2 separate regions of the Homo sapiens genome follow, and region 2 is linked to region 1. The links come from fine-mapping of genetic effects on gene expression. A gene starts in region 1. The other region holds a variant in brackets. All regions are shown on one strand. Distances are from middle to middle. Region 1 holds the start of UQCRFS1-DT (UQCRFS1 divergent transcript). Region 2 has its middle 25 kb from the start of UQCRFS1-DT.

The links.
Region 2: its variant is fine-mapped to the expression of UQCRFS1-DT in testis (GTEx, PIP 0.99).

What each region holds. Positions count from the first base shown.
Region 1 is chr19:29,209,690-29,218,029 of GRCh38, forward strand. UQCRFS1-DT (UQCRFS1 divergent transcript) reads left to right here and starts at 3,564. Exons shown (of 2, transcript NR_184022.1): 1 at 3,564-3,719; 2 at 5,592-6,126. UQCRFS1 (ubiquinol-cytochrome c reductase, Rieske iron-sulfur polypeptide 1) reads right to left here and starts at 3,462. Exons shown (of 2, transcript NM_006003.3): 1 at 3,216-3,462. The coding sequence starts at 3,429. RefSeq lists a silencer at 3,056-3,365 and an enhancer at 3,406-3,645.
Region 2 is chr19:29,234,049-29,242,388 of GRCh38, forward strand. No RefSeq gene overlaps it. Among named protein-coding and RNA genes, the nearest start is that of UQCRFS1-DT, 25 kb to the left of the region's middle. The variant A/T (reference allele first, on the strand shown) is at 3,109.

The DNA.
Region 1 (8,340 bases):
GAATTAAGCATAAATTACTTGCTCCTAGCACTACCTGGGATTACAGAAAAGATGAGCTTCCTCCCTAAAAGATAAAGGAATAAAAAGTTCATACTTCTACATTAAAAACAGTATCCACAACCCTTAACAGTATACAAGGAAATGTACAAGAAAACTCAATAAAATGGCTTTGCCCTTCTCATTCAGAGATTTGGTGGCAAAAGTCTCCTCCCACTCTATCTAGCTGGTTACACTTTAGTAGGCTACACCACCAAGAATCCTTTCGGAAATTAAACTGCCCTGTTGCAAAAATCATTCTCCAAATATTTACATGAGCTGCATTAGGTCTGACTTTCAGTAAGATGCTAGATTTAATTCTAACCTAAAGCAAAATCAAATACTTAAAGGAGAAAATTTAAGGAATTTTAACAAAACAAGTTTTATTTTAAGGTTGAGCTCCAATGCGCCTTGGAAATCTGCATGAAAATAGTACAACCTTCCTCTCCAATTCAAGAATCTTCTCCAGATCCAACCCCTCCACTCCCATAAGCCATCCTGCCATGAACCATCTAGACAGACTATAATGTGAACTTAAATTACAGGCTGAAATGATTACAGAAAAGGTTTTTGCCTTATGGTTCTACATTATTTGCCTGTTTCTAAAAATAGTTTCTCTAAGTCAGGTAAACCTCCAATTTTTTTTTTATTATACTTTAAGTTTTAGGGTACATGTGCACAATGTGCAGGTTAGTTACATATGTATACATGTGCCATGCTGGTGTGCTGCACCCATTGACTCATCATTTAGCATTAGGTATATCTCCCAATGCTATCCCTCCCCCTCCCCCCACCCCACAACAGTCCCCAGAGTGTGATGTTCCCCTTCCTGTGTCCATGTGTTCTCATTGTTCAATTCCCACCTATGAGTGAGAACATGCAGTGTTTGTTTTTTGTCCTTGCGACAGTTTACTTAGAATGATGATTTCCAATTTCATCCATGTCCCTACAAAGGACATGAACTCATCATTTTTTATGGCTGCATAGTATTCCACGGTGTATATGTGCCACATTTTCTTAATCCGGTCTATCATTGTTGGACATTTGGATTGGTTCCAAGTCTTTGCTATTGTGAATAGTGCCCCAATAAACATACATGTAAATGTGTCTTTATAGCAGCATGATTTATAGTCTTTTGGGTATATACCCAGTAATGGGATGGCTGGGTCAAATGGTATTTCTAGTTCTAGATCCCTGAGGAATCTCCACACTGACTTCCACAATGGTTGAACTAGTTTACAGTCCCACCAACAGTGTAAAAGTGTTCCTATTTCTCCACATCCTCTCCAGCACCTGTTGTTTCCTGACTTTTTAATGACTGCCATTCTAACTGGTGTGAGATGGTATCTCATTGTGGTTTACAGGCAACCTAAAAATTGGGAGAAAATTTTTGCAACCTACTCATCTGACAAAGGGCTAATATCCAGAATCTACAATGAACTCAAACAAATTTACAAGAAAAAAACAAACAACCCCATCAAAAAGTGGGCGAAGGACATGAACAGACACTTCTCAAAAGAAGACATTTATGCAGCCAAAAAACACATGAAAAAATGCTCAGCATCACTGGCCATCAGAGAAATGTAAGCCTCCAATTTTTTGAAGAAACTTTAGCAACACGACGAATTCCAAAGATGCTTTTCTTTTGCTATTGAAATGTTCTCCTTCCTTCCTTCTCACCTCCAGGTCCCAAGGATGGGCTAGGGTACTCTACACCTGCCATGGACAGTTTCTTCAAAACCCACTGATGCTCCTTAACAAATATTCATTCACAAATACTTTGCACTAACTGTATACAAAATCCGACGTTGTGAAAGATAGAAAAATAAAGAAGATATTACCTTCTCTATGCCCTTAAGCCCAAGGGTGGAGGAGTTACCAATAAACACAATACAGAGTGTAAAGTGTATGTGCTACAGAGACAGACAAATCAGCAAATAAAAACTTTATTCACCTGATCCTTAACTGAGATTGAAAAGATGGGTAAGGAAAACATATGGACATGTAGCAACTTAGTGGAAGGACCATGAAGAAAGTGCAGAGCCCAGGGTGAATGAAGACAGAGTAAAAAGAAAAGTGGCGGGCAATTTGGTTAGCGTGTAGGGGAAGAGTCACAAACAGCTATCAGTGGAGCCAGGCTGGTAACAGAATGAAACACGCAGACCTGGTAAAGACTGTGACAAACTGGAGAAGACCACTTGCTCCAACTGCGGGGGCGGCCACTACACAGCACACTATGGAATTTTCCCAAGTAGAAACTAGATCCCAGTATTACCGGCTTCCAGCATTTTAAGAGATGCCATTAGTCTTCCCAGTTTTTTTGAAAACTACACAGCCTGCAGACACACTGCCCACAGGCTGCCATTTCTCTATCTCCGATACAGGGCCAAGTAAAGATGGAAGGCGAGGCAAAGAAGATAAACGGGGATCTAAGGACAGAGGGTGTGGAATAGCCCCTGCGAAGAGCTCAGTGGCTACGACAATTCGTCTTGTCAAATCCCTGCTACCACATGTCCACACCACGGATCCTGGTGCGAGTCATTCTACCTCGTCTGTTTTCTCATCTGTAAAATGTAAATGTCGTCAATCTCTGCCCGTCCTTGACGACTGATTATGTTGTGACACTACACTGTAACTGACCTTGTGTATGTTTTTTTTGTTTTTTTTTTGGTGGGGGGGTGATGAAGGGGAAGGACATGAAGGGATCGGTAGTGGTGAGAAGACCAACTTCCCAAATATTAGTAAGTTTCCATTTCTTAAGCATGTAAGTGCCCAAACTGTGCTAACGGCTTTACGTAGAATTCCTCCACCTAAGCCTCACGACACCCCTACAAAATTGATAAAGATATGAATCCATTTCACAGGAAGTACGTTTAGAAACTCGCCCAAGGTCAAACGACCTGCAAGCAACAAAACCCCTCAGAGGTGGCTGGAACAGCGGGACTACAGAGCTCGTGAACTCGGCCGAGGAGGAACCAGGCGAAGCCGGCGGACGCGAGTCCAGGCCGGCCACCAGAAAGACGCCCCGAGCCCGGGGGCCAGGCCCAGAGTTGCGGAGGCCGCCCAGCCCGACCTGATTCAGGCTCCGCTCGCGCGCCCGCGGCCGCTCCCTGCTGGGGGCCGGAGGAGCGGGCACCGAGAGACCCCCAGCCCTGCTCGCGGCCCTCGCCCCGGCTCACCATTGAGGCCCACGGAGGCGACCAAAGGCCGGCGCACGGCCTGGCCGCTCAGCGACTCCCGGCTGAGGAAGGGCCGCTTCAGGTCCAACACAGGCTGCTCCGGGGTGGCGGGCACCGTGGCCTGCACCAAGGGCCGCAGCGCGCCCGCCACCCCGCGGGACGTGGCCGACAGGACGGGCGCGAACGGGCCTGAGCGGGATGCTACCGACAACATGGCGACAGCCGCTCCAACCGCCAAGCCGGTCACAGGGACGACCTTCCAACCACGGCGCAGGCGCGAGGAGGCGCGGGACGCGTGACGACAGCGCGCCGCCGGAAAGGAAATTCTGCAGTCCTGCAGGGCGGGGCAAACTTGGAGAGGCGCTGCGTCGGGGGACGGGGCTACAAGCCGTCGCTGGGGGCGGGGCTTGCGGCCCACCTGTAGGTCCCGGTGCCACCTCGTCAGTGTCCCGAGAGATCCCCAGAAGAACGAGAGGGCTGAACAGGGGACCCCACTGACGTCCGGTGGGCCGACTTTACGATCCTTTAGGGTAAAAATTTCATCTAGGAAGACCTAGAGATAACAATAAACGATTATAGTTTAACTTAGGATGGTAATATATCTCAACTACGACGAAGTCCAGCACATAGTAATCGCTATGTGTTTACTATGATGATTTTTATTATCTTCATCTAACAACAACAACAACAAAAAGGCCAGAGGCATCTGTGCAAAGCTCGATAATGCTAATGGATTATGTTTATTAAGTATTCACTGTGTATTTGGTTTTGCGTTTTATTATACCTACGTTCTTTCATTTGTTATCAAGGTCTCTATGAAGTCAGAGCTATTACTATCAGCATTTTACCCATGAAGAAACCGAGGTTTAGAGAGATTCTTTTCCAGGAACTGGATAGCCAGCAAGATGTGAAGCAGGGTAATCTGTCTCCTGAGTCTATGCTCTTCAGTGCCACCACTGTTTCCCAAAGTAGGATTTTAGAATTTTAGAGGATGCACAGAGCTCGCTCATTCATGTTCCATCACATAGTGAGAAAGTTTTGTTTTCTTTTGTTTTGTTTTTCAATCCTGATTGCACCAATGAGAAAGTCTCAGTTTGGTGCTAATACATCTTTAATTAAAAAAAAAAAAAAGTAGAGATGAGGTCTCACTATATTGCCCACTCCAGTCTCGAACTTCTGGCCTCAAGGAGTCCTGTCTCCCCCTCCCAAAGTACTGGGATTATAGGCATGAGCAAATTCACTTGGCCTCAGTTTGATCCTAATATATCTTTAATTCCTCTCTACACTTATCTCCCACTTTTAACAGAAAAGATCTTGAGTTAGAAGCTCTTAGCAGAGAACTGAGTCTAGAGTGATTTCATTATATGGTTCATAGTATTGATTTTCTATCCATACTGGTTTTCTATTCTGTACTATACTGAGATAAAGTTTTTCATTTAGGTCAAAAATAATTTAAATATTAAGTAAATGTTAATATAAGCAGTGCACAGAATTGGCTCTGTGCTGTGCATGGGCTCTGTGATCTGGGCAAGTTCCCTCACCTCTCTGTGCCTCAGTTTCCTCACCTGCCAAATGGGGGCAGTAATGATGCCATGTGTGTTGTAAAGTTACTGGGAGGAGTAAATGAACTAAAACGTGTAAAGCATCTACAAGCAGGCCCAGCACACAGGCAGCACCAAGTGAGGATTTGCTAGTGGTGTTTTTATCTGAGATGCCACCTCCTCTAAGAAGCCTTCCCTTGATCCTTGCTGACTCGTTGTTATTCCTCATGCCAGGTCCAAAGTGTACTGACAGGTTTCCCCTTTGACCTTCCTATGACTCCCCTTAGGGCCTAGGCTTTGACCAGCCTTATAGCCCAAGGGACTATATTGTACTCTCAAGATTGGAGGCTGCCTCCTCAGGGGCCACCCTAGCCAGGCTCATCACACAGCTGGCTCAGTGCTCTCCCTTGGCAACAACCTTAGGATAAAAGACATTTCCAGAGAAGTTGTCACACAGCATGCATGGTTTGAGTGCTTCACAAGAAATAATATCACAATTCCCTCTGAGTTGGTAAGGAAATGAAAAATGAATGAATGAATGAATGATCCTTCACAAAACCTTCACAATGTCCCAGTTGGGTGAACAGAATAGGAATTATCTCCAGACCTCCTGGGTTCAATTTTAGTTTCACCACTCACTAGCTGTGCCCTAGGGCAAGTTATTTAATCTCTGTGTGTGCCTCCGTCTTTCTCTTGTAAAACAGAGATAATAACAGGATCTACCCTAGAGAGTTATTTTAAGGATGAGATGGATTAATACATGTAAAATGCCTAGAACTGTGCCTGGCACACAGTATGTAAATATCTGCAATAATAATAACTTTCTATTTTCTAGATGAAGAAACTAAGACTCAGAGAAGACAAATGACATGCCCAAAGACACATTGATAAGAACGCATCTGGTAGTGGTGTTCGAGTCCAGCGTTGCAGCAGAGAGATGGGTAACTGTATGGCCGAACAGCTGTCTTCTCGTGGAAGAAGGAGGCCAATGTCCAGGAGTGGCAGGCATACTGGAACTTGGACTTCTGTAGGCCAACCTGGGTTCCACTTGGTAGATGGGGGTCTTGCTGTGTTGCCCAGGCTGGTCTCAAACTCCTGGCCTGAAGCAGTCCTCCTCCCTTAGCCTCCAGAGTAGCTGGGACTACAGGTACACACCACTGCAACCCCTCAGTGGTTGTTATTTAACTGAAGGGGGTTTTAGCTTTCATGTATCAGCTCACTCTGGAGCCAGACAGCCTGGCCTTCATGGCAGCTCTGCCCCTTACTACCTGTGTGACATCGGGCAACGTTACTGAGTGTCAGATTTCTTATTTGTAAAACAGGGATAAAAATGACATTGCTGTGCAAATTAAAAGAAAGAATCCATGTGAGATATTTAGCACACTGGCATACAATGAGAGCTTAATAAACATTGTTAGTTTTGTAAACTGAGGGAAAAAAATAGCCACAGGCCTGGGAACATAAATGCTTGGTAAGCTTCTCAGTTCCCTGGAAGTCTGACACGCAATGTGTATGTATGAACAAGGCAGGAGGAAGCATGACACCAAGCCTTCCTTTTAACAAACACTGTTTAAATCAGAGGTCGGAAGTCATGGACTGGAGATTCATTCTCTCCCCACTCATTTCTGCCCAGAGACACCTGGTGATCTGGCATACACAGTGCTATGAACCTCAGAATTATTTGCTAGCATTTACAAATTGTGAGTACTCCCACATACAAACTGTGGTAGATGGAATAATGCCTCCCCACAAAAATGTCCACAGCCTAATCCCTGGAACCTGGGAATATGTTACTTTACACAGCAAAGGAATGTTGCAGCTGTGATTGGAGATTGAGATAGGGAGAGTGTATTAGTCTGTTGTCATGCGGCTATGAAGAAATACCTGAGACTGGGTAATTTACAAAGAAAAGAGGTTTAATTCACTTACAGCTCAGCACGGCTGGTTGGGGGGGCGCCCTCAGGAAATTTACAATCATGGTAGGAGGCACCTCTTCACAGGGTGGCAGGAGAGAAAATAAGAGCAGAGCGAAGGGGGAACCCCTTATAAAACTGTCAGATCTCATGAGAACTCACTGTCATGAGAACAGCATGGGGGAAACCGCCCCCATGATCCATCACCTCCACCTGGTCCCCCCCTTGTTACAATTCAAGGGGATTGTAACAATTCAAGGTGAGATCTGGGTGGGGACACAGAGCCAAACCATATCAGAGAGTCTTCCTGCAGTGTCCGGGTGGGTGCGGCATGTTCATAGGGTCTTAGAAGAGGGAAGCAAGAGGTGAGAGGACAGAAATGCCACATTGCTGGCTTTGAGGGTGGGGCCAGAGGAGGGACCTGCAGGCAGAGATAGAGCTGGAAATGGAAAGGAAACCTTCTCCCTTAGAGTCTCCAGAAGAAGTGCAGCCCTACAGACCTGTGTTAGGCTTCAGACCTCCAGAATTGTAAAATAATAAAATTGCATTATTTTAAGCCACTCGAGGCCCATGTCCTCAACAAAGAGAAAGACGGTGGGGTGCTGTCAGCCAGGGTAGGTACCTGCTTGGTGGTCTGGGTCCTTTCCCACTGTGTCCATTCAGTTACATTACCTGCCCATCTGCTGAGGCCTCGAGTTTGGGACCTCAGGTTTATATAATTCCTTGCACAAGCATGATCGATTGATTCCGGAGAGTAGCAGAACACTGATATGCAGGGGAATCTCCTAGTTCCAAGTGTGAGTTGTAGTCTAGACACTTCCTGTTCCCTACAGTCTTTTTTTTTTTTTTTTTTTTTTTTGAGACAAAGTTTTGCTCTGTTGCCCAGGCTGGAGTGCAGTGGTGTGATCTCGGCTCACTGCAACCTCTGCCTCCTGGGTTCAAGCAATTCTGCCTCAGCCTCCCGAATAGCTGGGATCACAGGCACATGCCACCATGCCCAGCTAATTTTTGTATTTTTAGTAGAGTTAGGGTTTCGCCATGTTGGCCAGGGTGATCTCAAACTCTTGACCTCACATGATCCGCCCGCCACAGCCTCCCAAAGTGCTGGGATTACAGGCGCAAACCACCGCCCCCAGCCCTCTTCCCTACTGCCTTGATGTGTTCATCTGGGCAATGTGTGTTGAGGGGGCATAGGGAGGGGAGCTCTAAGGCAAATGTGCTGGGATTCTGCATTCGTCATCCTCAAAACAAAATTGGTCCCTAGGTAGTTCTGCCTGTGATCCTGCATAATGTGCAAAGCCAGTAAGATGCCTTTGCCTCATCCCCAGGGAACATGCCTCCCAGCCACTTTCATCTCACCTAGTGCCTACACAGAAAGGCAACCGCCTCCCTGCTGAAGGGACCCCACGCCTGTCTCCTGTTTCCACACAATTACCCCGGGAAATGCCTGGCTTCCCATTTCCAGTTGCAGCCATCTTGACAGTTTCAGCCTCTCCCCACAGCCCACGTCCCTCACTTGAGCAGCGAGATGTGAAGACAGACAGCCGCTTGAGAACTGCACAGACTGTCCTTAATCTAAGCCATTTAAAAGGCATTTGTGTTCCATAAAACCCGTTTCTGTAATTCTGTGCCCCTACTTCTTTGAAAGATGATAACCCTAGGGAGGAGATT
Region 2 (8,340 bases), 24 kb after region 1:
GCCCTGCAAGGTAGATCTTATGATCTTTGTGTCAGGGGTGAAAAACTCAGGCACAGTGTTCAGTGACTAGCTGAAGGGGCAGAGCCAGAATTCGAACCCAAGTGAGCCTGACACCAGGGCCTAGGTTTTCTCTTCCATGACACAGTTCTCACCACACTGAGAGTCAGAGGAGGCACAGGTCCTCTCCTGGGGCTTCCAGAAGAATACTGCTTACAAGAAAAAACAATTATAGGAAAAATAAGGTGTGAGGGATACTACGGACACAGCTCTGCATTGGCTGGGAGAGGGACAGATCAAAAGCCTTCTAGCAAATATCAACTCCATGAGGACAGGCACTGTGTCTGCCCTGCCTTCCACCAATCCCCAGCTTTCAATACAGCACCTAGAACATGGTAGCTCAGTAAGTATCTGGTGGATGGGTAGATGGATAGATGGATGGATAAATGGATAGATGAATGGATGGATGAATGAATAGATGGATAGGTGAGTGGATACATGGACGGATGGATGAATGATCACTGTATGGATAGGTGAATGGATACATGGATGGATGAATTGATGGATGCATGGGTGTATGGTGGACGGATGGATAACAGCGGACTGGATAGATGGATGAATTGATGAATACATACATGGATGGATGGATGGATGCATGGAAAGAGATCTGTGTTGTTGGTCTATACCTTCCAATGGCTCATTTGTTAGCAGGCCACATTCTCTTTATTGGCCTCAATTCTGCACCTGTAGCCTGAGGGCCTGAGTTCAGACTGTATTCAGGGAGCTTTCATGGGTGCCATCAGAGGTCTCCCGGACAATCCTGCTAGACTGGCTCCTCCCTCCATTCCCACCCCTATCCCTAGAAAAGCACAGAATGCCAAGGCTGCCCAGTTGTGCACCTGAGGCAGCCCAGTTGGGCATCTCTAAGAATGTATGTAGATTATGAATGTGACTGACCCCATCCTGGGTGCTGCAGCTTTGAACTAACACTTAAAAAACAAAAAAAAGAACACACACACACAAACACACAAACACACACATTCTGGAGTGAGCTTGGCAAACTGCTTCTGAGCCCTTCCTGTGTGGGTAGAGAGCACAGTAATTAAATGGACTGGTTCTGGAGCCAGACTTCCTGGGCTCATCTCCTTCGTGGCAGTGAGACCAGGCACTGGATTCTCTGAGGTTTCACTTATCCTCTGTTAAATGGGATAGCACCTGCCTCTCCAGGTCACTGTGAGGGTCAGACGCTCCCCTTAGCGGGGACTTTCCATATCACTGGGGTTTACCAACAGGTCGGTAAACTCTGTCACAGTGGCAGGGCTTCTCAAGTCCAAGTTCAGCACTACCCCCCAGAAACAGGTGAGATATCCTTTTCCTGGGTTTACAGTGTCCTGGAGCTTTGTGAAGGGGCTGGTGTATCACATGAGGTAATGATCTGGGACTGGATGGACTCCCAGGACAGGTGTGAGTGTCACCTCTGCTGGGTGGCCAAGGGGCACAGTGCTGGACACTGACAACATGAAGTACTCACCTCTATGCAATGCTGACTCTCAAACCCAAGCAAATAGAGTCTGCAGGTGTGAGTGGGGCATAGAGCTGGGTGGCCTGCTGAAGAATTCACTGCCTTGCCATCCCTGAACACACACACATGTGGTTTCTCCCAGACCTTCGACAGGCTATAGCCCCTGGCTTTCCCCAGTACGTTTCCTCCTTACATAGTTTTCCCAGGAGCCTGACACCTCACTCCCACCTAACTCTTCTTCCTCCCTGCTTTCCTGAGAGATATTTTAGCCATTTCTACTACCACCATTGCCTCAAACCCTGTTCTCTTCCTTTCACAGGGAACCTTGCCTTCTTATCCTAGGAGCCTAAATTATTATCAATGGAAAAAAATGCTTGCTAGAAGGCAAGGCTGGCTTACTTATTACACTCTACTGAAAAATGGGAGAACAATCACCCAGTCCGACAAAGGAAGGGGGACAATGACACTTGTATGGCACTCACTAGATAGGCTCCATAGCATATTTTCTTTTTACTTTTTTGAGACAAGGTCTCACTCTGTTGCCCAGGCTGGAGTGCAGTGGTGCAACCTGGGCTCACTGCAACCTCCATCTCAAGACTCAAGTGATCCTCCCATCTCAGCCTCCTGAGAAGCTGGGACCACAGGCATGTGCCACCATGCCTGGCTAATTTCTTGCATTTTTTGTAGAGATGGGGTGTTGCCATTTTTCCCAAGCTGGCCTTGAACTCCTTGGCTCAAGCAATCCATCCTCTTTGGCCTCCTAAAGTGCTGAGATTACAGGCATGAGCCACTGTGCTCAGCCTAGCATATTTTAAGTGAAAGAAAATAGTAGTAAACTTGAAGACAGATCAATAGAAATTAATTCAGTCTTAGGTACATACACAAAAAAGGTTTTAAAAATAAAAATACTTTCAGAGATGTGTGAGACTATAGTGTGTGGTCTGAAATGCAGGTCATTAGAATCCCAGAATGAGAGGAGCAACAGAAAAGGAAAGAAAAAAATATTTAGAGAAAGAATAGCCTCAAAAGCTCCAATTTCTGTTGAAAAAATTAACTTACAGATGCAAGAACTCGATAAACCCCAAGTATAATAAAACTAAAGAAAATTCTACTGGATATATAATACTCAACATTCAGAAAGCCAAAGAAAGATAAAATTTTGAAAACATTCAGCCAAAGTGACTCCAGAAGAAAACCAGTAAGAATAATCACTGATTTCTTATCATGAGCTATGGATGCCAAAAGAAATAGAAACAATATAATTCAAGTACTGTAGGGTGGAAAAGAACAGTCAACCAAGAATACTATATTCAGATAAAATATGCCTCAAAAATGAAGGTTAAATAGAGACACTTTTAGAAAACAAATACTGTGATAATTTGTTACCACCAACAGACCTGCACTACAAAAAAAGTAAAGGAGGTCCTTTAAGCTGAAGAAATAAAGAGCTCTGAAAATAGTGGATATGTTCATAAATACAAAGGACCATTTGTTTAATTTTCTTCTTTTAAAAATATGATTGTTTAAAGCAAAAATTGTAATACTGCACAAATGGGTTTATAATGTGTGTGTGTGTATATATATATATA[A/T]AAATAACACTAAAAATAGGGTGGCAAATGGAAACATACTATTTCAAGTTTCCTATATTTTGTGTAAAGTAAGTTGATATTAACCATAAGTAGAATGGGTTAAGTTAAAGGTAGCTATAGTAATCCTATTAGGAACCACTAAAAACATAAGGCAAATATGTATATTTTGGAGACAGGGTCTCACTCTGTTGCCCAGGCTACAGATGTGTGCCACCATGCCTGGAGGTTTTTTTTTTTTTTTTTTGTAGAGATGAGGCCTTGCTGTGTTGCTAGGCTGGTCTAAAGCAGTCCTTCTGCTTCCACCTCCCAAAATACTGGGCTTACAGGTATGAATGCCTCTCCTGCAAAATATATAGATAGAAAGCCAATAAGGAATTTAGATGAAATACTAAAATATTTTAACAAAAAAGAAGACCAGAAAGTAAGAACAAGGGGAGAACAACACCAAATAGATTAGGCAAATAGAAAATAAATAGAAAAATGGCAAACTTTGATACACCATGTCAATAATTACATTAAATGTATAAAGAATATTCACTTCAATCAAAAGGCAGAGATTTTTAAGGGTTGGATAAAAAGCAAGAATTGGCCAGACACAGTGGCTTATGTCTGTAATTCCAGCATTTTGGAGGTTGAGGCAGGAGGACTGCTTAAGCCCCAAAATGTCAGACCAGCCTGGGGAACATGGTGATACCGCAACTATACCAAAAAAAAAAAAAAAAAAAAAAAAGGTGGAGGTATCGCTTGAGCCTGGAAGTTTGAGGCTACAGTGAGCCATGTTCACGTCATTGCACTCCAGACTGGGTGACAGAGAAAGAATCCTGTCTCAAAAAGAAAAAAAAGAAAAAGAAAAAGCAAGAATCAAGTATATGCTCTTTACAATAGACACAATTTAAATTCAAATACAAGAAAAATATATTGAAAGAAAAATATGCAAAAAAAATGCAAAATGTAAACATACAAAAGCTGAAGTGGTCATAATAATATTAGTCAAAATAGATTTCAAAACAAGTGCTATTATTACTAGAGGGGAAGAAGAACTTTGCATTACTACAAAAGAGTCAGGCCAGGCGTGGTGACTCTTGCCTGCAATCCCAGCACTTTGGGAGGCTGAGGTGGGCAGATCACCAGGTCAGGAGATCGAGACCATCCTGGCTAACATGGTGAAACCGCGTCTCTACTAAAAATACAAAAAATTAGCCGGGCGTGGTGGCGGGCGCCTGTGGTCCCAGCTACTCGGGAGGCTGAGACAGGAGAATGGTGTGAACCCAGGGGCAGAGCTGGCCGTGAGCTGATGTCGTGCCACTGCACTCCAGCCTGGGCGACAGAGTGAGACTCTATCTCAAAAATAAAAATAAATTAAAAAATTTAAAAAAGAGTCAATACAATCAGGAAGATATGGCATTTATAAAGGTGTAGGTGCCTAATAACAGATCTTCCAAATACATGCATAAAAATTGACAAAATTAAAAAGCAAAATAGACAAAGCCACAGTCATAGTAAGAGACGTTAGTGCACCTCTCTCAGGGGGCAAAGAGAACTACTAGACAAGAAACCAGTAAAAGTATGGAATGTCTGAAGAACATTATCAACCACCTTCACCTACTTGACATTGATAGAACCCTACACCAAACAACTGCAGAACACATTCATTTCAAGTGCAAATGGATGTGCATCTAGTAGATCATACACTATGTCATCAAACAAATTCAATAGATTTCTAAAGAATGAAATCTTACAAAGTATGTCCTCTGACCACAAAGAAAGTAAATTATAAATCCTAGCAGAATTCAGTCAGTAGCAGAAATCTCACCCCGTCTAGTATCCTGAGAAACTTTTGAGGAAAATCTCCTCTCTGCAGCTTTTCAGTAAGCACTGAACTGGGGAAGTTCAAAAATAAATTTTTCTTTTAAAAATAACTATCCTGTTTCCACTCTGATAAGCACATGAGCAACCATTCCTCACTTTGAGCTGATGGCAGAAAATGCAACTCCAGCTGGAGTTAGCAAAAAATAAATGCATTAGCTCATGTGAACAGAAAACCCCAGCATGAGGATATGGTCTCACCCTCAGCCTCCCCTCAGCCTCCCAGCTCTACTTTATTCTGTGTGGACTCCCTCTTGAGCAATGTCTTCTATGGCAGGATGGCCACGTTCATCTTCATGTCTGGCAGAAACAGAGCTAGTGTTTTCCAAGAGGCACAGCTTTTCGTTATCACTGTTTCTGATTGGCTAAGTCTAGATCACATGACCACTCTTGACTCTGAGGTTGGCATCAATCATTCCACTCACTGCAAGGGTTGATAGTGAGTTGGTGGTTTCCCAGAGGGACACTGAGGTTGAGAAGAGAGAATGAACTGAGCAGGCAATGACAGCAGATGTGCACTCCCTGCACCCACTGGGTTTAAAGATGGTGGAGCAGGAGGTAGGGAGAAATGTGGAGGGATCTGATGGGCAGATGAAATCCCAGCAGGTCAGAACTTACCCCAGAACCTAGCTTAACCCCCCTGTCTTTCCAGACAATGGTCACTTCCAGGTGGGGGGCTGATTAGTGCATGTGTACACACACACACACACACACACACACAACACAAACACTCATTGTTTTCATTTTCTTTCCATTTTTTCACAATGAATACAACTTATATTATTTCTGTATTGTGTTTTGAAAACACAAATATTTAAGGCAAAAACATCCTTTGGGGGTTGGAATCTTTTTTCTTTTTGAGGGGACATAGAGTAGAATTATGAAAAGATGCTTATCTTCAAGGTCAAAACTGTACACTCCACAGGTGCTATTACAAACATTTAGCGAGTTTCTACTTTTACCCTCAAAATAGGAATAACCTCTCATTTAATTACCTCATAAGTTGTGGGGAAAGCCCTCACCAAAACGTGGAGCATTTGAGATAGTGCATGTAAACCAGCTTTCTATACCGAAGGTGTTTTACAGAGGAGAGAAAAGGTTATCTGTATTTCAATTCTGGAAGCCACAGGAAAGTAACTTGTGTTACTTTCAGAAACACAAGTTTCTGAAGCTCCTATTCAGAAAGGATCTTTTTCCACCCTTCAGAGTCACAGCCTTCTTTCCCCCAAAGGGAGAAGCCTTTACCTGTTGTATCTCTAGGCTTTAACCACCACACAAATAGAAATAACAATTGTAGCGTGGAACAAACCCAAGGGACAGAGGCAATTAAAAATAAATCAGACATCTTGGAAAAAGTCATTTGCAGAAACAGTTGTGTCCACAGCATGAAATATGGAGGAAATACATTAAAGCAAAAATTAATTTAATAAACACTCACCCTCATTCTTTTTAAAGGATCGAATAGTATAAAATACTTCATTAGGCAAAGTCTCAGCAGGGGAACATGGACTTTTTTAAAAAATGACTTTGTAAGTTAGAGATGGAAGATAAAAAAGAAGAGAGAGATGGGGAGAACATGGCTTTTGTCTGAGTGTGCAACTTTAGAATAGGGCAGGGAAGTTCAACTATGGGGAGAAGATGGTCAGGGTGCTTAGGACCCCCTCATATCCCAGGGGTCCCATCATGCTAGAAACACACAAAGCCAGTGAGACAATGGCAGCCTCCACCCAGATAATCCACACACACAGAAACACATCTGATTTAAGACCCAGAAATGGCTTCAACAGTGCCATCTCCTGCCCTAAGCTGCTCTGCACTTGCTCTGGGAGGTGAGTAGAAATGCTACTGAGGAAGGTAAATCATCTGATCTCCCCCAAGTTGATCCCAAGGCCTTGCGCGGTGCTGGGGGATCAGCTGATGCCCCCAAATGCGTGCCGATTGATGTAATGAGCATTTGGGGGTGCCAACCCAGGGTCCTTTTTCTGTTCACTTCCTACTGATACCCAGCTTTTTCTTCAGGAATCCACCTCAGCTCATGGCCCGACCCAGAATTCCAGATTGGGGCTTTTAGTGGCTGAAATAAATTCAGGTATTCCATTTCCCAGACCTGGTCATTAGTTTAGAGGTGACCCTTCTGCAATGTTGAGACAGGAACACTCACCAACTGGATTCTGTGATGTGCAGGCAGGAAACCTAAAATTGTGGGAACAACTATGGCTGCAAAAAGGGAAGTCAGCCCAGGGCCAAAGCCAGCACACACAGAAGGACCCAGAGGGAGATCAAGCAAAATAGGGCACCCTGATCATGCCATTCCTGAAGCTGTGCTTTCCTTGATTTCCAACAGTTTATTCCAGTAGGAATAAATCTTGCTTGTTTTATAGGCTGGTTGGAATTTGGCAGCAGTTTGATGTTTGCATGTTAAGAGTTCTGACACTGAGCAGGTTGGAGAATGAGAAAGAGCAAGACAAGAGAAAGGAAGGGAGAGGGAAATTAAGAAAGGGAAGCAAGGAGAAAAGAGAGGGAAGAAAGGAGGAAAGAAAGGAAAAGAAAGGAGAAAAGGAGAGGGAAATTAAGAAAGAGAATAAATGAGAAGAGGCAAATCATAATAATAATAATCCAGAAGAATAAAAGATTTTTAGGGCAGTATGGGGTTGTGTAGACTGATATGTCCAGCTCTCATATTATGGATGAGAAAATAGAGGTCCCAAGAAGCAACGTGACTCTGCCAGGGCCACACCATCAGTGTGACCCAGCATGAGGACCCAAGCGTCCCGGCACCCAGCCTCCTTCTTTCTTCCCCCAAGTCACAAATATAGAGAAGCAGTTTTTATAGCTAAAGTAGTTCTTGCTTATTACAGAGAATTTGAGATGTGCACAGAAGTAGAAAAAAGAAAAAAGCCATAATGTTACCATGCAGATATAACCATTATTAACATTTAACCAATTTTCCTGTCAGTATTCTTCTGTATTTAAGGATCATTTTTACAGAGTTTTAAACCCTCAGTTTACATAATTGTATTCCCTGCTTTTTTCTCTTATGTCGTAAGCATTCCCCATGTTACTGCATATTCTTCAGGAACAAAAATGTTTGACTCTATAATATTCAATCAGGCAGATAGACCCTCATTTATTTAACCGTTTTCCTACCAGTTTTCCTACCAGTGGATATATTTTTCAAATTTTCAACACTTACTTTCAAAACGCTTGAAGATCCTCACATAAAACTTTTTTGTATGTAAGATTATTTACTTATAATTGATTCACAGAAGTGAAATCTTAGGGTTGAAGGGCAGGAATTAGGGTTGCCACATTTAGCAGCTAAAAATGTAGGATTTAAATTTTTCATTTCAAATTATTTATCTGCAA